2 separate regions of the Homo sapiens genome follow, and region 2 is linked to region 1. The links come from fine-mapping of genetic effects on gene expression. Tissue or cell type: lung. Region 1 holds a variant in brackets; the other region holds the start of a gene. All regions are shown on one strand. Distances are between the middles of the regions. Region 1 overlaps MPDZ (multiple PDZ domain crumbs cell polarity complex component). Region 2 holds the start of MPDZ (multiple PDZ domain crumbs cell polarity complex component).

What was found. PIP is the estimated chance that this variant, and not a neighbour inherited with it, causes the effect.
Region 2: MPDZ starts here. The variant in region 1 is fine-mapped to the expression of MPDZ in lung (TOPMed, PIP above 0.99). The same link has a PIP of 0.9 or more in aorta, breast, esophagus mucosa, fibroblasts, unexposed skin and visceral fat.

Annotation. Positions count from the first base shown.
Region 1 is chr9:13,221,949-13,232,151 of GRCh38, forward strand. It overlaps MPDZ (multiple PDZ domain crumbs cell polarity complex component), which reads right to left. Exons shown (of 47, transcript NM_001378778.1): 4 at 2,426-2,635; 5 at 1,623-1,762; 6 at 285-498. Among named protein-coding and RNA genes, the nearest start is that of MPDZ, 53 kb to the right of the region's middle. The variant G/A (reference allele first, on the strand shown) is at 4,998.
Region 2 is chr9:13,275,767-13,285,969 of GRCh38, forward strand. MPDZ (multiple PDZ domain crumbs cell polarity complex component) reads right to left here and starts at 3,926. Exons shown (of 47, transcript NM_001378778.1): 1 at 3,634-3,926. RefSeq lists enhancers at 1,402-2,117, 2,118-2,833, 2,834-3,549.

The DNA of each region.
Region 1 (10,203 bases):
GTATCTGTCTACAGATAAAGTCAATTTTGTTAAAGGACTACATTTTTCATTTTTAAGGAATGCTGTCAAAGGACAAAACTACACAAAGAAAAGTAATTGTTGTTTTAGAACTTAGAAGCTTTATCATGCTTAAAGAACAAATATTCCAGGCTGGGGAAAAATAAAAGAATAGTCAGACAAAAACTCAAGAAGTGCAAAGACCCTACACAAATTAGAAACTTGGAGATAACCAAAAACAACTTGAAAAATACGTTCTGTTCCTTTTGAAAATTTTAGGTACTCACCGGATTAGAGTGAGCTGAAATTGTGCTGGCTGCAGATGGAGAACGGGAAACTATGGGGCTGACAAGCTGAGGCAATGAGCCTCTGGCAATAACTAGCTGGACAGTATCTTTGGCTTTCTGCAGGATGCTGATAGCCTGCTGATGTGTAATTGTCTGATCAAGAGCCTGTCCATTGATAGCAAGAATTTGATCAGTTTCTTTCAATCTTCCATCTCTATCAAGGATGCAAAAGGGGATAAAAGACAATCTGAGAGTTCTCAAGGAAATGACAGCTTCTTTGGCATGTATGTTCAAGTCATTTTTAATCCTATTTTTAATTCCCACACTCTAAGCTTTTTCCTGCAGTTCTACTTTAAAAAAAATACACGCCTTGGCTGCAGGTCATCAACTCTCGTAAGGTTATTTCACTGCTACTCCTACTGAACCCCTCCCATATAAAAGTACTCTTTATTTCAGCTACCTACTCAGCCTACATTACATCTTGGATATTCTCATCTTCTAAAAATGAAAGTGGATATATCTATACAGTTGGCCTTGTGTATCCATGGGTTCCACATCCATAGATTAGATCCCCAACTGGGGATCACATCCATAGATTAGATCCCCAACTGGGGATCACATCCATAGATTAGATCCCCAACTGGGGATCACATCCATAGATTAGATCCCCAACTGGGGATCACATCCATAGATTAGATCCCCAACTGGGGATCAAATATACTCAAAAAAAATAATGCCACAACAATAAAAAAATCACACAAATTTTAAAAATACAATATGACTACTAATGTTTACATAGGATTTGCACTGTGTTAGGCATTATAAGTTAAAGATGATTTAAAATATATGGGAGAATGTGCACAGGCTATATACAAATACTATACCACTTTATATAAGGGACTTGAGCACCTGCAGATTTTAGTACCTGCAGGAGTCCTGGAACCAATTCCCCATGGATACTGAGGGGCAACTATATTAAATTATTGCTCTGGGTACATAAAAAAAATGCAGCTCGAATTATTATGGGTCATTTCTAGCATGGTAATTTTAAAAATCTAATCAAAAAGAGCCCATTTAATTAACAATGAAAATAATGTTATCCTCAAATTTTTCTTTCCTTACCAAAACTTAAGTTATGACTATATCTAAAAGCTACTCTCATTTCAAAGAACCTGCTATTTTATCACAACAATGTTAATGACTTCTAAAAACTGGTTAATAACAGATTATGTTCAATTTTTTGTTGCCATTCATTATTATTTTTCTAAATTCCTGCATAGTAACCAAAACCTTCAGAATGTGGGATCAAAAACAAAGAAGACGCCGCGACCATCTCACCTATGGGCCACACTGCCCTCTTGTATCTCTTGAACAAATATTCCCAGCTCTCCTCTGTTTTCACTTCTTAGTCCCACAACACTAAACCCAAGGCCTCCAGATGGAGGTTTGAGGAGCTCAAAAACTTCTACATGGCGACCCTGTTTAGGAAACAAAGCAAGAAATAAAACTAAAAGCCAGGCCATGCATGGTGGTTCACGCCTGTAATCCCAGCACTTTGGGAGGCCAAGGTGGGAGGATCACTTGAAGCCAGGAGTTAGGGACCAGACTGGGCTACATAATGTGACCCCATCTCTATAAAAAATAAAATAAAACTTAGTAAGTGTGGTGGCACACATCTATAGTCCCAGATACTCAGGAGACTGAGGCAGGAGAATCCCTTGAGCCCAGGAATTTGGGACTGTAGTGAGCTATGATCACAACACTGCACTCCAGTGTGGGTGACAGAGCAAGGCATGTCTCAAAAAAAAACTTAAAAGCCAATTACTGCAGTAACAGTCATCTTATCAGAATCATTTCTTTGTTAAAAAAAAAAGAAATTGAATAACATTTTTCCAAGGTAATTGTTAGCACTTTATCCTGAAGAATATTTCTATAATACAACATATAATACTCAAATTTAAATGATGATAAAACTGTAATAGAAAACGTCTGAACCATCTAAACTCCCACAAAACTGACTTTTTGTTCCAATGTTTTCAGATGTTATAAATGTCACTATATTCTTCAAATTATCCATAACTTGATCACATTCTTAAATTACTACAGGTATTACAATAACTAACAGAAAGAAATGTTCTTACCTGGGCCATATTTTTGATAAGCTGATCAAATTCATCACAAGCAGGTTTCCCATTAATGTGTGGAATACCAGGTCCTGTAAGTGCTTCCAGATTCCCATTGTTTGGGGATAATAAAAACGATTCATTTTGCAGAGTAGGAATCACAGCTGGGCTGAGATGAGGAACGTGGGCATATTCAATATTTGAAGTTGCTGAAGTTGCAATATTTACCTAAGAGTAATGCAGGGATTATTAAGAATTTTGACATTCCATAAACTATTTCATAGAAAATATCCCAAGGGTACAAGGACATACAAATGAAATTTCAAAATGTCCAAATCCTTTAATCCAGCAATTCTATTTTGGGAAATTTATTTCAAGGATGAACATTAGGATAATACACAAAGATGTGTGTGCATCACTAAATGTTCAATGCAGCACCATTTATTAGATGGGAAAATTCAAAAACTACCGCCAGGGTTCAACTTCAGGGTACTCATTAAAACACACCCATAAATATATACATCCACACATATATTTTTCTGTCCCCAGATCCTATGAAGTAACCTCTAAACTCTCAGAATTTCCCCTCTCAGAATTTCCTGAGTGATGAGGTATCTTTCTTCTTCATGGTGGGCCCCAAGGCCACATGATATAAGCCCAAACTCGGAGCTGAATTTTAATCATATAGGCAGGGCAATCAATCACACCTATGAAATAACACGCCAATAAAAAATGCTGAACACCAAGATCAGGTAATCTTCCTGGGTTTGCAACACAGTCAAACACAGCTATACATGTGTTTGTGCTTTAAGCTAAGTGCTATTATGAGAGTCAAAAGTTTAAAAAAAAATTAAGACTTTATAAAGGAAAAAAAAGTTACAGTAAGCTAAGGTTAATTTATTATTGAAGGAAGTTTTTGTAAATTTACTATAGCCTAGGTGTACAGTATTTATAACTTATGTATAAACTCTATGCATAAGAGTTTTTTACCTGTCCTTAAAAATAAAACAGAAAACTCATTGTTACCAAAGTTACCAATAACTCAACCATTATATTGGCTATCTAGTAGCATACAGTATATTGACTATCTAGTAGTGTACAGTAATGTCGTAGGCCTTCACATGCACTCACCACTCACTCACTGATTCACCTATAGTAACTTCCAGTCCTGCAGGCTCCATTCATGGTACGTGTCTCCTATACAGGTGTACCATTTTTTACCTTTTAACCACATTTTTACTGTACCTTTTCTATATTTAGAAACACAGACAATTACCATTGTGCTACAACTGCATACAGTACTCCATATAGTAACATGCTGTACAGGTTGGTAGACTAGGAGCAATACCAAATAGCCTAGCTGTGTGGTAGGCTATATCACCAAGGTTTGGGTAAGTATACCCTACGATGTTTGCACAAGGATGAAATCACCTAATGACACATGGCTGTACTCTATACATATTGTCACACATCGATTCTGGGAGAGTTATACTTTCCCAGCAAAATGGAAGCTTCCAGTTTGGAATCCTCCCATAATCTGCACTACGCATCTCTTCCTTTGGCTGACTCTTGACTGCATCCTTTCCCTACCATAGATCATAACCATGAGTTTAACAGATTTCAGAGACTCTCTAAGACCTTCTAGTGAATTATGAAACCTCAAGGTGGCTAGGGGAACCTCGCAAATTTGCAGCTGACATCATAAGTGAGGGTGGTTTTGTGTATCCTTATACCTTTAACTTTGTAGCTGGACCCTAACTCGCCACAGTTGGTATCAGAAGTGTGGGGCAGCACTGGCAGTCTGGAGGACTGTGCCCTCAAATCGTGCTGTCTGGCTAACTCCAAGTACAATGACACACGTAACAACAACGGAAAAGATCATCCCACTTTGGGAAATGATTCTATAATTATTTGTGTGTGCCTTTTAAAAGAGTTTGAAGTTAAATCTAAATAATAATAAAGCAATGCAGTCAATCCTAATTTCATATTTATGTTGGGTGCCTGGATTGTGACTTTTTATCTGTAACTACTTATCAGAAAGCTTACTTCATTGATGTTTTTGAGTCACTCTCTGACCTCATCTCCTAGCAGTCTGTCCCTCACCCACTTAGCCCTAGCTGTGCTCCCCTCCTCACTGTGCCTCAAAGTGCCAAGCTGTTCACTCTACCAAACAGGTATATTCTTCCCCAAATATCCACATGCTTCCTTATTTCATTCAGGTGTGCCTAATCTCACCACAGAAAAGTCCTCCTTCGCATTCCTATCTAAGACAGCACCATTATACTCCACGAACTTACTGTGCCCTGTTTTAATTCATGGCACTCATTACCACCTGATCCACACCCTGCTGTCATGAAGCTTTCATCCCAGTCAGTGGAGACCGACTAGAATGCAAAAACTCTCCAGTGGAAATTTTTGACTATTTTATTTTTACTATGCCCTCGTTCTCTAGAAGAATGCCTTATACAGAGTTGTTCAACATACATTGGCAGAAAAAAAATGTTTATCTATTTTTTAAGGATCTAACTCTGATCCAATCTCCTGAACAACCTTTCAAGTATCATCTCAATGCTAAGGATGATGAAATTAC[G/A]TAAAGTCACACAGCTAAGTTGTTTGTGACCTAGATTTTTTTTCATCACGGTGTTCCTATCATCCTTGTATTATACAGAAAACATACAGTCCTTGTATTATCCACAAAACATTTGAGATATCATTTAAAATAAAACATTAGGTAAAGAACATCCACTGACAGAAGCTATCAAAATATTTCACAATATGTCACCAAAATCTATACATAAGAGTTTGTTACCTATCCTTAAAAATAAAACAGAAAACTCATTAAGTTACCAAAGTTACCAATAACTTAACCATTATATTAGCTTTCTACAATCACAGATGAAAAAGAGATCAATGTGTTGAGAAGAGACTTTTGGGAATCCTTTTAAATGTTTATTTTAAAATCTATAGCAGGCATGATCAATTATTATTTTTTCAAAAGTAAGCTTCTTATGCCAAGATTGATTTTTTTTTTATCCTGAGCCATGGCAACTTCAATAAAGTTTGCCAGCAGAAGACACGCAGCTCAGGTTGAAGCAGATGGCATAATGAAATTTGTGACAGCCTGAGGATCCCACACACCAAGACCTAATGGCTATGGTATGTTTGCATAGGAAAAAATATTTGGACTTATGCTATGGTAAGCCAGAATGAACAAATCGCATCCCGAGAATAGAGAGTCTGTCTGTAAGAGATTCATGGTAAAAGAGAAGCTCTGATATTATGAAAGAGTAGGTATACAGGCATTCTAAGAGTAAAGTGAGTGAGAGCAGAACAAGTAAAATATTACAAAATGAGAACTGTATAAAAGTATTTAATATCAATTGTCATTTCCTAATTTGTTAAAGGTTTGAGGAAGGTCAATGACTCCTCCTGCTTCATCCCTGACCTTGAGGTCTACATAAATGTAAAAGCAGAGGTTATAGAGATCACATATTTAAAAACTATTATTTAATTATACCACCATACAAAAGTCTTATTTATAAATTGGCAAATTTATACTCATAAGAAAAAGCAGAAAGGCACCTTTGATTATGCTGTAATTGTTTATTAAAATGGCTTTCTGAACTATAATCTCTTTGAGGAATACGAGTGTATCTTATTTGCCTTGATAGGTCTGTTCATAGCAGTCATGCCACAAATGTTTAATGAAAAGATCTTGATTCTCATCCTTGGTTTATAGAATATAAAATAAACAAAAGAAAACATAAATATCTGGCAATTTTTATATACAGATAAACATTCTGTATAATTTATGGAAGTTGTTAGTAAATGAGCAAGAGTCACCAAATAATTATCTGTTTTCTGTTTAAGTTCTGGCTGAACATTTCAGTCTAAAGGGGGCTTTTATGTATTTAGCAAATAAACATATATTAATTTATGGATTTTAATTAGTGCTATTACCTAAAACATAACCTAAATATTATACAACTTATTCAATTTAAAAGTTTGCAAATTCTATGTGAAAGGGCAAACTAAAACACCTTCTAAGTATTTAAAAGTACAGGAAAAGTCCTCTTATAAGATGCAGTCAGAACCAGTATTGATTCACATACTACAAAAGGTCAAGTAAAGCAGAAAAAATAACAAAGAAAAAATATGTACCTTATTTTAACTTAAAACACATGTATATTCATTTGTATATAGGATTTCTTCATACATGCAATTTGTTCAATCTTGCTTACCATAGCATAAGCCCAAATACTTTTTACTATGCCAACATACCATAGCCATTAGCCATTGGTGTGCGGGATCCTCAGCCTGTAACAAATTTCATAATCATAAACATCTTTTATCATAAATATATTTTACAGTTTGACCTAACATAACTAACAATTTCACCAATAATTGTTTTATCAATTCACCTATATAGTTTATCAAAATATTTTCATAGAAAAACTTGTCATAAATTTGTATATTATATAATAAAGTTGTGCAATTATAAAATAAATACAACTGGTACAAATAGCTTTAAAAATGACTTTTTGAGAAATGCACATTTAGCTGGTACAAGCTAGCGAAGGACACAAACTAGAGCATCTCTGAATAGACAACTGTTTAGTGCCCTGGGTATCATTCAATATGCCTTCCAGAAGAAATGGACAGTATCTTCTTAGGAAGTTCCTCATTTGCAGGTGTGCTAGGAGAGCTGTTTCTAGAGTAGCATCCAAGAAAACATAATTTATCTTTAGTTCTATATACAATGAAGGTCACTCTGTGTGAATAACTGTATCAGAGTAACCTTTCCACTGAGAACAATTAAAAATGTGTATAAAAGCTGTTAAAAACAAATAAATAAACCACTTTAAAGGTATCAAAAAGAAACCAACTCTTCTGCCATACTCTGTTGATGCAAAGAAGGCAGTATCCAGCCCACATTAAACAGGGGAATATACAGAAGCATGAATATCAGAAGGCAAGAAATACTGGCCATCTTAGAGGCTGACTAGAATGGCATATCATAGCAAAACAGCTAAAAGCCAAGACAGAAAGAAAATCTTAAAAACCACTAGAGCAAAAAGGTATCTAATCTTCAAAGCACAATAAGACCAACAGCTGACTTCTCAAGAAAAACAATAAAGGTCAGATGTTAACAAGATGATTTAAAAAAAAAAAAAGATAAAAATACCTGACAACCTAGATTTTTCATGCCACACACCACACTTACACACACACACACACACACACACACACCCCCATCCACCCCACACACAATTACCTTAGATTTGTATAAAAGAAATACCAGAGTAAAATCTTGGGCAGAAAAAAAATTAAATCTCAGAAGATCCCTATGCAGAAAGTATTATAGTACAAAAAGGAGTTTAAAAATGTAAATCAGTAGGAATTCCTTAAACCAGTAAATAATTTAAATTTGTAGAGCTTTAAATATATATGTAATTAAAGTACATACAGTTGCACAAAAGGTAGGAGTAGGGTAAATAAAGTTGAAGTGTTTTAAGTTCCTTGCATTTTTTGGAAAGTGGTAAAAGTACTAATTAAAGTAGAATCAAATAAGTCAAGGATACATATATCTGACATATGACTCATATCTAGAATATATAAAGAAAACTCAAAATTCAATAGTAAAAAAAATCCAACTAGAAAATGGGCAGAAAAAAACAGACAGACATTTCATGAAAGAGGATATATGGCTGGCAAATAAGTACATAAAAGAAATTTAGCATCATTAGCCATTAAAGAAATGCAAACTAAAATCAAAAAGAAATATCACTGCGTACCTATCAGAATGGTGAGGATGTAGAGAAGCTGGATTGCTCAGACATTGCTGGTGGAAATGTAAAATGGTACACCCCACTGAAAAATAGTTTCGCAGTTTCTAAAAACAACTAGATATGCATTTACCATACAATCTAGCAATTGCACTCCTGGATATTTATTGTACAGAAATAAAAACCTAGGTCCACACAAAATCCATACACAATCGCTCACAGCAGCTTATATATAATAGTGAAAAATTGGAAACAAAATACCCCTCAGTAGGTAAATCCAATAAGAAATACTACTGAAAAATAAAAGAAGAAAAATATTAATATATGCAACTTCAAGATATCAAGGGCATTATGCTGCATGAAGACAAGCCAATTTCTAAAGGTCACATACATTATGATTTTATTTTTATAACATTCTTGAAACGACAAAATTATAGAGATGGAAAATGAATTAAAGGTTGCCAGGGGTTACAAATGTAAGAAAGTGGTTAAATATGACTATAAAAGAATAGAATAAGGGAGATATTTGTGGTGATAAAATAGATCTGATCTTGATTGTGGGGATAGCTAGGTTAATCTATATAAGTAAAAACAAACAAACAAAACAGAGGGAGAGGAGGGAAACGGGAGGGAGGAATTTAAAACAAATTTTTAACTGAATGATAATGAAGATACGACATACTGCATATACTGCAAACTACATCCAGAAATGTTGGATATGCAGCTAAATAAATGCTTAGAAACTTAGACTTAGATGTAAGAGGGAAAAAAAGGAAAGACAAAATGTCAATGAGCTAAGCATCCGAATCAAAAAGCTAAAATAAAACAGAAAACCAAATCAGAAAAGGAAGAAAATAACATATATTGCAGCAAAAATCAACAAAACAGGAAAATGATACAATAAAGAAATTCAAAAAAGTCAAAAAGTTGATCTTTGAGACAAAGATGAGAGTAATAAAACTGATAAACCTCTAACAATACTGATTAATATAGCAAACATAAATTTCCAGCATTGGGAATAAAAAAAAGGAACATAATTAGACTCTACAGGCATGCAATAACCATATGCAAAAAAATGGGGAAAAAAATACATGAAATGAACAAATTCCTTGGTAACACATTTATCAAAATATCAATAGTTTGGCCAGGTGCAGTGGCTCACACCTGTAATCCCAGCACTTTGGGAGGCCGAGGTGGGTGGACTACTTGAGGCCAGGAGTTCGAGACCAGCCTGGCCAACATGGCAAAAACCCATCTCTAATAAAAATACAAAAAATTAGCTGAGCATGGTTGTACGCACCCATAATCTCAGCTACTTGGGAGGTTGAAGCACGAGAATCACTTGAACCTGGGAGGTGGAGGTTGCAGTGAGCCACTGTACTCCAGCCTGGGTGACAAAGAGCAACTCTATTTAAAAAAATAATAATAATAGTAATTTTATATCTATCAATGAAATTGCATGCACTATTAAAAATCCCCCCTCCCCGCAAAAATAAAACAAGAACAGGTTTAGAGAGTTTCACTGGTAAATTCTTCCCATTTTTTTTTTCTGAATTAACATCAATTTTTTGTGACAAAAAAAGGCTGAATTGTTCTCTACTTTTTGTTTGAGGCCAACATAACCTCAATTGCCAACTCTAACAAGGATTATACTAGACAGAAAAGCTATAGATCATAAACATAAATAGAAAAATACTAAATGAGAATGTTAACAACTCAATTCAAAGATACTTAAAGAGGAAAATGATTATGACCAAGTTGGGCATTCCAGAAATGTAAGGTTGAATTAACACTTGAAAATCGTTTAGTCTAATTCACAAAATGAACAGAATACAGGAGAAAAACAGGATCAGTTCAAAAGATGGGAGAAAAAAAATAATGGATAAAATCCATGCTATTACCACTTCTATTCAATATTAGACCCAAGGTTTTAGGTAATACAATAAGGCAAGGAAAATAAATTAAAAGTATAAAGACTAGAATTGAAGAAACAAAAACTGTAATTATTTG
Region 2 (10,203 bases), 54 kb after region 1:
TTCCCTATCCAACCTTTTCCCCTGGGCACAAATCCTCTATTCCACTCCAGAAATATACAAATTGAATATGCTCTCCAGTACCCACTGCCCACTCACATCCCAGCCTCTTCTATACATGTCCATTTTCAAGGGAAAACCACTGACTTAAGCTCTACTTCATATCAAAAAAACTTTCATTTCCACCCTCTCATCTCAAGACCAAAGCCTTTCTGTGTCTTATTTACTAACCTCAATGATAAGAGCAACTAATCCCTATACTTCACTACTTTCCTAGAATCCCTGTAACATTTTTAACATGTAAAACCTTTCTGTTATTTCTCCCATTAGATTCCTCCAACTAAGACCCTACACTTCTGGAGCAGAATCATGTTTATTCTGTACTCTCCCCAATGCCTAACCCAATACAACATTCTTCCTAATCCATCTATTACTACCTACTACATGAATACCTCGGATCTTCTCTGGAAACGTATCACAGGAAGGCAATGGATTCCTCACCACTGGTTTCCTTTATCGAGAAGTAGTTATTTACCTCCTTAGTCTTATTCTCCCACATGGAATCCCACTAAAATTATTTAATCACAGTATATCAATTTTACCATGCTAAATATCATTTCCGAACTGTACTTATATAAATGCTCTCCTATGCATGACACTAATTTACAAGAAAAAATGAAACCTTTATTGTTATAAATATGGGGTTGATAATGTACGTAACAATATCAAATGAAATCCTACTTTAGGCCAAATATCTATTTTCAAAAGTACATACAACTGTTTTGGACATATATCATCACTCATACGCACCATCAAGCAGTCCTAAATTCACCAGGAAGTTGTCTGCTTCTTCTCTTTAAAGTGTAGGATCTTTCTCTGGCAGATGTGCTATTTGCTCTACCATATTTGGGGACATTCCAGTCCAACTTTGCCTCAAAATATTTCATGAAATTCAGAGTACTTTGTACGTTTCCAAATATACAAAATGTAGCCAACCTGCAACTCAACCTGAGAGAGACAAGACTATGTCAGATCTGGGATGTAATCTGGAGAAAATAATCTACCTCTAAGTGAGGATAGTTACCTTCCAGGCAATTCATTGTTCCTCTCCAGCTTTTAAATCCCTTAATCTCAATTCTAGACAATGGATTCACTTGATCATTTGTCAAGCAAAATCTCTCCACCCTAGCAGTTAAAAACTAAAAGTGGCCAACTAGACCTAAATCCATGTAAAGTTACATATCAAGGATTTCCAAGAGTCTCTCTGAATAGCTTCAACTTGTAGAAATATACTAAACTCTGAGACCAGCCTCTATTCCTCACAGTTAGGTACATTTAAATGCATCTGAAAAGGAAAGATGTCTTTAAGGGTCAAGCAGAGCAATGTCTAGGTGATAGGACTTTGAAGCACACTAAAAATTGACTAAAGATCCCTCCCTTTCCAAGCCACAACCTTCAGGCCTAGTCAATAAAAAGGAGTGTGGTAAAGGGACAAAGAAAACCAGAACTAGAGAAGGTAAGTGAAAAGAATAAACACAGAAAGGATCAAAGGAAAAAAAAAGGAACATATGTAAGAAATAAGGTACACCATAATCTATTAGTAATATGTTGAGAATAATCTTCATTAGTTTGTTTGTTTTGGCAAATGAGATAGGGAAGAAGAACGGAGAGTCAAGGGGTACCCAAAACTAGTTTTGCCTACATTGCACACAAGGGTACAGGTGCCTCCATCCAAAGCTTAGTATTGTATTAGAAGATCAAGTCAAGGAACGTTTTGCTAGGCTTTTATTTTTATTTTTTATTTATTTACTTATTTATTGAGTCAGAGTCTCGCTCTGTCACCCAGGCCGGAGTGCAGTGGCGCGATCTCGGCTCAATGCAACCGCTGCCTCCCGGGTTCAAGCGATTCTCCTGCCCCAGCCTCCCTAGTATCTGAGACTACAGGTGCGAGCCATCACGCTCCGCTAATGTTTGTATTTTTAGTAGAGACAGGGTTTCACCATGTTGGCCAGCCTGGTCTTGAACTCCTGACCTTAAGTGATCCACCCACCTCGGTCTCCCAAAGTGCTGGGATTACAAGCGTGAGCCATTGCGCCTGGCCAAGTTTTGCTAGGTTTTTAAAACACTATTGTTTGCCAAAATTCCATCAGGTGCTAAGGCATACATTATACAAATTTAGATAGTTCCAACATTACAAGATGTTCATTGTAATCACTCATACCCAAATTCAACATGTAAAACTCCCAAGCCCGAAACCATCACCTCCTCCTCGTTAGTTTTCAGATAAGGTGTTATTTATTCTATAAAGGGTAACCTAAACCAGGAATTTCTAGGGAAACACGAAGGGGATGTTTACATCAAACTGTCTACAAGGCAGGACGAGGCAGTCTGATCACTTATCAGATTCCTTCTCTATGACATCAAGGAACATGGAGAAGTTTTCCTTCTACGCTGGTGAAGTCATGGTCCTCTTATCTATCTGATGATACCTAGGAAACACTAGCCTCCAACCGCAGCCCCTACTGCAAAAAGGCAGTCAGTGCCCATTGCCGGGGTCTTCCCAAGCGGAGCACCTCAAAAGCCGCACCGCGCAGTAGAGGTCTCCAGGGGCCCCCACTCGCCCCCAGTGACTACGGAGCGGCCTCTACCTCCCGCCGGCGCCTGGCCACTTCTCCTCCCCCGCAGTCTCCGCTTGATTTCCATGTGACTGCAGGCAAGAATAGCCCAGCCTTTGTGCCTCTGCAAAGAACGCAAACAAAAATGTACACCATCACCACCCAACAAACGCGCAACTCCGCAAGACACAAAGCGTCTCCCAAACATCGCTTCCCTGGTAACATCCGGCATCCTGGGGCTGCCAAATCGCAGACAAAGACGCCCATCAGCGCGGGGGGTGAGGAGACTAAGGGAGAGACAAGACCAACGTGCTCCCACCAACGGGAGCGGCGGTTAAAAGGGCGCCGGTGCCAGGGGTGAGGGACGGGGCACCGGTACCAATTAGCGGCTCGCCTCGGGGTCCCCGCGGCTAAGGCGAGAACGCAGGACCAGGAGCATTGCTGCCCACTCTCTACCGCAACCCGCACATCCCGGGACCACGTAACGGCGGATGGGGCGTCCGGGAGCGGCCCCTGCAGGGGAGAGCAACAGGCTCCCGCGCCCTGGAGGCCTGGTCTGCGCTCCGGGCCCCCAGGCTAACACCCCACCCCCAGCCCCCCGACACCAAGACTGTGCCCCTCTGGGTCAAGGAAAAGGAAAAACTTTTAAACCTCTTAGTCAGCGAGAGCAAAAGAAAGGGGTGGCGGGGGTGCTGAAAGGTCTAGGATTATCCACCGCGGGGCTGGGGGGAGTGGAGACTTGCGAGTAGCAAAGGAAACTTCTAGACCCCATCCTTTTAAAAAAGCCACAGCAGCGGCTTCCGCGAAGCGCCGGGCCGCGCGGGGTGGGGCAAGCGCACCGCCCCACCGCCCCACGGCCCGCCGCCACCCCTACCCCCACCCCCACCCCCACCCCCATCCCCGCCCCCACCCCCACCCCCAAGCGCCGAGCCCAGGGCGCCCGCGCACCTTCCCCGCCGGCGCGCGCGCAGGGCGCGGGGGCGCGCCTCGGCCTCTGGGCCGGGGCTCAAGCGCCGCTTACCCGGCTCGCGGCGCCCGCCCAGGGCCGCGACGCGAGGGGGCGGAGGACTGGGGAGCAGGGGTCGCCGGGGCCTCTGGATGCCTCGCCTCGCCCACGCTCACTGTCTTCTCTTCTGAAGTAACGACCCGGCGAGGAGCTTCGGATCAAAACGCACAGACACTCACGCGTGACTGAGAAACTTAATCCCGCGGTGGCCCGACGCCAGCCTAGCGCTCCGCCGCGCCCCCTCCCCCAGCGCGCGCCGCACTTGCGCCGACCGGGGCTGCCGCGGAGGCGGTGGCGGGGCCCAGGCTGCTGGGGCTGCCGTGACGCCTGCGACCGGCGGGGCGGCGGGCGCGCCTTGGCCAATCAGGGGACGCGGCCGAGCAGGCCTGTGCGGGGTTTTAAACTCGCTCCTGGGCCGCTCGACCTGGGGTGTGGGTAGTGGACTTGTGAGGTGGTCAGATAAAATATAGGCTGCTCTGTTAAATGGGAATTTCAAATAAAAAAAAAAAGGAATAATTTTAGTACAAGTATATCCCATGCAATATTTGGGACGTACTTATGCTAAAAAGTTCTTCGTTGTTTATCGGAAATTCAAATTTAATGGCAGTCTTGTATTTTTATCTGCCGATTTTGTCAACCTGCGGAAACTGATAGCCTGTTTCTAGCTCCTCAGATTTTCCTTATGTGCACTGCCCTGTGGATGCTTTCTGCATGGGTAGCTTACTGAATGGCATAGGATGCTTATGAGAAGCGCTTTAATCAGAAGGGTGGGGGCAGTCCTCTCACTTTCTAAGTAACTTTTCGCACATCAGGGTGCATTCTTAGTCTGATGATCCAATTAAAAAGCAAAAACAGTAAACATGGAAAAGTTATTAGAGTTGCATGGCCCCAGGAAGAACAGATATTCATTTCTATTTTGTGCCACTTAAGATTTTCTTTCTGTTATCCTCAATTTGGAAGTCCCACGAATTTTTTTCTGCATAAGAAACTCTTTTTCAAAATATCCCTCTGATATTAGATTATAGGACCAAAGGATACTCAGAAGTCCAATTTAGAACATTTAAAAGAATTTCTTTTAATATTCTGAATAAAAATACTTTTTTCTCATATTCCTTGGACTTTCAAACACATTCACAGCTGTTGACCTCTCTCTTCCTAGAGTCCTCCCCACCCCACCCCTCTTGTAATTCCATGCAATCACACTCTTGGTTTTGCTTCTTCCGCTTAGTCAAGGGCGGATGTATGGGCTCTGAAGCTTGTACAATTGGGAGCTCTGCTTTAACCAAAAAAAAAAAAAAAATCTTTCTTTAGAAAAATTCAAAAAATAAATGCCCATGTAAACACATTGCTAGGGTTGCTCCCAGGCAAGAGAAGGACCCGGAACGTTAAGCTACATCAATTTCCAGGTAGATCTGCCCCTGTCCCCAGGCCACTCTTCAGTCTTCTTTGCCTCCTCTCCCCCAATCTTTAGATGCTGGAATTCCTTAAAAATCAGTTACGGGCCCTCTTTTCCTTTTAACTCTTACCTCTAAATACATTTTCACTTCTAGCTTATGATCTCGTACCTACAGAATCTTACATTTATACCTTCAGATTTATCCATATATTCAAGTGTTTATTTGGCTTCCCTGTTTGCTTGTCTCAAACCTAGATTGCAAAAAAAAATGCAGCCGTGATACTTCTGCTCAAGCCTGGTCATCTTGTTCAGTGTCCCAGTGAATGGAACTGCCATAGATGCTACATGATTCCCACAAACTACGATAAACCCATTGTGATGCATTCTTATGGTACCCTATGCTTTTGCTTCATAATATTTTTCCTACTTTGTAAATATGCATTTGATTTTGTAATTATGCAATGTCTCTTCCCTCTTCAACCATAAACTCCATGAGAACAGGGGCTAAGTCACCATTTTATCCTCAGAGCCTAGTAAAAACTTCACACTTGGTTGGCACTCATATGAAATAGGATGAATATACGACTGCAAGAATGAATAATTTCTCCATATAACTTTTGTGTTCTTGTCATAGAGTCACCTCAAGGCATCCCATTTGGAAAGGATTTTCTTATTGCTTAGAAATTCCAAAGGGATCCTCCTGTTTGAATAGCACTTCTACTTGTCAGTTTTCAAATCTGGTCATTCTCAAATACAAAGGAAGTACGTGCATGAAATGTTAGCTGCTGGGGTAGTGTAGGAGGAAAAGAATTTCATAACTAGCTACTGAAGGAATTCTTTGAGTCCTAAAATTTTAAATGGCATTTTTTATATTGAACCATAGGGAAAGAGCCCATAAAACTGAATTAGAGGAAAGTTTTAGAAATTTAATTCCCTGGTTTATTGTGGATAAATGAGATTAAAACAAATAATTTTACCTTGGTTTAAAAGGTGCTATTGTTCTAGTCTCCTTTAGCGAAGCAAAGCCCACATGCCCTCTTTAAACAGCAGTATATCAGAGGATAAAAAGGCATCTGGTTTAGATTAGTCCTTGCATAAAATTATCCAGAGTTTGGGGATAATTCCACCCTGAAGCTTCTCCTTTTGAAGTTAATCCGTATAGCTATTGCTCTATTCTCTTTAACTTGTTCTAATCCAGAAAACCTAAGATTTTCTAGAAATCCACCGGGGATATAGTGCACTAGTTTAAAAAAAAATACCTAAAATAAAAGTTAAAAACATTAAAGTTGAAATAAAATCTTGCAGAGAAAGACAAAGTGTAAAGCAGATAGAGTAGAGGTGCTCTACTCTATGGGATGGCTTGAAACCCCATACGTAAATAGATTAATAATGCTTTCTATTTCATGTTAATACAGGCTCTGGGGTCATTCCACCTATATCCTCAGTGAGGCATTCTCCACAATAATTTGTTTTTCTCAAATTTGAGTCATATTCAGAGGACTTTTATAAGGGAAAAAGTCCTGGAAACTTCTGAGATTGGTTTAAATTATTATTGTTGGTTTATTATTTATTGTTCATCATAATTGAACAGTACAAATATAAACTATGTATATGATATTATTTTACATTTGTGGCTCCTCTCCAACTCTAAAACTAGTGAAAGGCCCGGGTTATCTACTCAAAACCTTTAACGGCTGCTGAAAAGACAGATCCTGGAAATTAAACTTTTGATCCACCAAAATAACAGAGGATTCTTTTAGTTGCCTGCTGAGCACACAGTCTTCATTCTGCTTTTTAACAGCAGATAGCCAAGACGTAGGTGAGACCCCCATGCTGGGAGATGTTACTACAGAACTGCAGGGTTAGAACTCTATGAACCAAATCCTTTCCCAAGGACTGATTTGGGGTAATCCTAATAGTGGGGTGATGGGCTATTTTTATCACCTTTAGCCAGCAGTGACTCTTATTAATAATGCAGCATTTAAATGCAAACTAGATGGCATGCTTGCCAGTCCCTCTACCTAAGGGATATCTAATATATAACAACTGTGCAGTTTTAGTTTATTATAGTTTGTAGATTTTTTATGTTGTCTACTGGCTGACTGACTTTATGGTTTCAATTTGCCTCAGATGTCTCAATTAAAAGAAGAGTTCAGATAAATTTTTTTTCAGTTTGTTCAATGTTAAAAAGCATTTTAAATAATCCTTAATTTTTTCTCTCCATTGAAAAGAAGTCAAGGTTGAAAAAAGAAGATAAAGAAGAAAGAGAAGAACATTAGGATAATGGATATATATGTGTCTAGGAGAAAGCCATTAGGGGGAGAGAATGACTAAGAGAGAATCCCAGGAATGAGAAAAATGTAAAAATTATTTCTCTTTTGAGAACATACAGAGTAATCTGTCTCTCTTCATATAACAAACTGTTTATAGAGAGATAAAGGCTCTGAAATCTCCAGTGTGTCTGATTAGGCCTCATCTCTCTAAGCATGAAAGAAAGGGCATTGGGAGGTCATGACCTTCTGACCTTGAATTCATTTGCATTTGTACCCACAAAATTCTAACTCTATAAGGAAATTCCAGGAGAAAGCATTGGGGCCAGGTTAATTTTAGGAAGAAACACATCCAAACTGTTCCAGAATCTGTGCCTCAAGTTTATGCCAGCTAGAATGACATTTTGAACTATCTTACAAAATATCTTCCCTGTTATGCATACTCTGAGGGCATAAGTGAGTTATCCAAAAAGAAAATCAAGAAAAACAATAACAATAGTGAAAAGAATTTGTTCAAGTTGCATAGTATCTTTTAGGTAATACTCCCCCTTCATGATGGCAGAAAGAACAGAGGGGAAAAAATTGAGCTATTGAAAACACCACTGAGTCAGTGGATTATGTCTTACCTGAAGCCCACTCCACCTCTTGTCTTTCCACTTGTATGAGCCAATAAATTTTTTTTAGTTCTTAAACTAGTTTGAATTGAGTTTTCTGTTGTTTGTAACTAAAAGCATTCAAACTGATGAAATACACATATTAAGCCATTCACAGTGAGCTAGACAGGTACTTTTAAGTTTCAAGGAACACACTGAGATTACCTCAGTCGGAGCTTATTAAAGGATAACTAGGAATATAAGGAAAACATGAGTTTCCACTGGTGAACAGCCAGGTCTCACAGAAAATGTGACATCTTTCTGGTCACAACACAAACACACAGAAACAAAAGGTCATTTCAGAGGATGCAGCTCTAGAGATGAGATTTTCTTACAGTCTGTGTGATTCTACCATAATTATAATCCAGTATACCTCTGTCCCTATGTATCTAGCTTTTCTTCTTCCTCTAATGTTTGTTTATATTGGGTCCTTGAAAGTCTGGTAATCGTGGATGGTCTGTTTATATTTAATAATGAGGCAGTGAGCAGTGTGGGGCTCTGTGCATACCGCAAGGCTTTGTTGACTTGTACTTCACTTCTGAGAAAGCATTACACTCAGGGGCTCCTCCATTCCAGAATAAAGAAGTCTTTACTCCATAGCCATCTGATGTCTTTTGAGAGGACATTTCTGGATGTTTGCCTGAGAAATAGATGCCTGGCTGCTAGGACTTACATATGGAAGCTATGTGTGCATGCGTGTGTGTCTAGAGTGTGCATGTGGGTGTTTATGTCTGTGTATCTGTGCATGCCTGTGATGGTGGTGATAATGTCGGTTGTTCCAATACCCAGCTTTCGCTCCTGACATTTTACTTCCACTCTCCATTGTACCTAGGATTTCAATGTTACCAAGCTTCTCTGCAGTTTTGGTGGATAGGATAGCTCCCTCCTCTGCTGTAGTATCATAGACCTAGGACACTGCTTCTCAAACTAACTGCAAAGGGTCAGGTGATTTGTTTTTTAACTTCCAATGTGTCACTGACCAATGCACTAAAAATAAATTACTAGAAAAATGACATGCTTGGATGTTGTGTCAGTGTTCAATTGCTATAAAGATTTTTAAAGGTTAAGTTTTAATTTGTGTGTGTGTGGACCAGGCTGCAGACCACACTGTGGGGAGCATTATTCCAGGTGTAATGCATACAGAAACAATGCATCACGCGGATGCTTGTTTAAAATGCAGAATTTCGGCATCACCTCGACCTACTGAATCAAAATCTTCAATTTAACCAGACCCCCAGGTGATTTCTATGCACTTTAAAGTTTTTAGGCAGTTTCCACTCCATCTGTTTTTTGTCTTCCAGGAACGTGCTGCTGTATCGCTACCTAGAAAGCCTTTGCTTCAGAGCTTCAGACAGCTAGCATCTTCTCCTCATTCAAGTCACTGGTCAGATGACACCTCTGTAGAGAAGACGTCTTTGGCTCACCAGTAAGTTAGTAGCCCCTTCTCACCTCACATTGCACTGTATTGTTATCTCTGCAGCATTTATCACTATTTAAAATTGTTGCAGTCTCCCTCCTGTCTCCTACCACCATCCAGCTAGAATGTAAGCTCAATGAGAGCAGAGATTTTGTCTGTCTAATGTCCTGTCCTTTCCCCAGTGCCAGCACAGTGCCTGGCAGGTAATAGGCACTCCATGCTGCCTACACTCTGCTTCTTCGTTCCTCAGGAATTCTGCTCACTCTGAGCTTCTGTGTATTGCTTTCTCTGTATGTCTCTGAGTCTGTAATAGGAAGCCCAACTCAAACTGGCTTATAAAATTAAAAAGATGTTGGCATATGTAATAGGAAAGGTACAGAGTGAATGCAGTGATTAGGTCTAGTTCAGTGAGGGTGCAGGCCCCAGCTCTCTCTGATTCTTCTGCAATAATCAGAAAGAACTTCTGATTCTTCATGTGTCAGCTTATGGCCAAGCTGATCACTAGATAACCATCTCAGTTCCAGCTCTCAGATGCACAGAGAGTTATGTCCAGAGACCATCCATTGCAATCTCTCTCTTTTTAAAGAGTAACTCGGCCAAAAACCTCCAACAGTATTCCTTCAGCATTCCTTAGGCTGAATTGGATCATAGGCCTGTTCTAAACATATATGCACGTGGTATAATTACAAGCAATAAAATGCGCAGATCTGAAGTGTACAATTCAATAAGTTTTGACAATTATATACGCCCCCCATAGACAGTAACCAAACCATGATGTAGAATGGTCCCATCACCCCAGAAAGTGTCCTTGTGTCCTTTCCAATCAACCAGGAGTAGTAACAGTGCCTT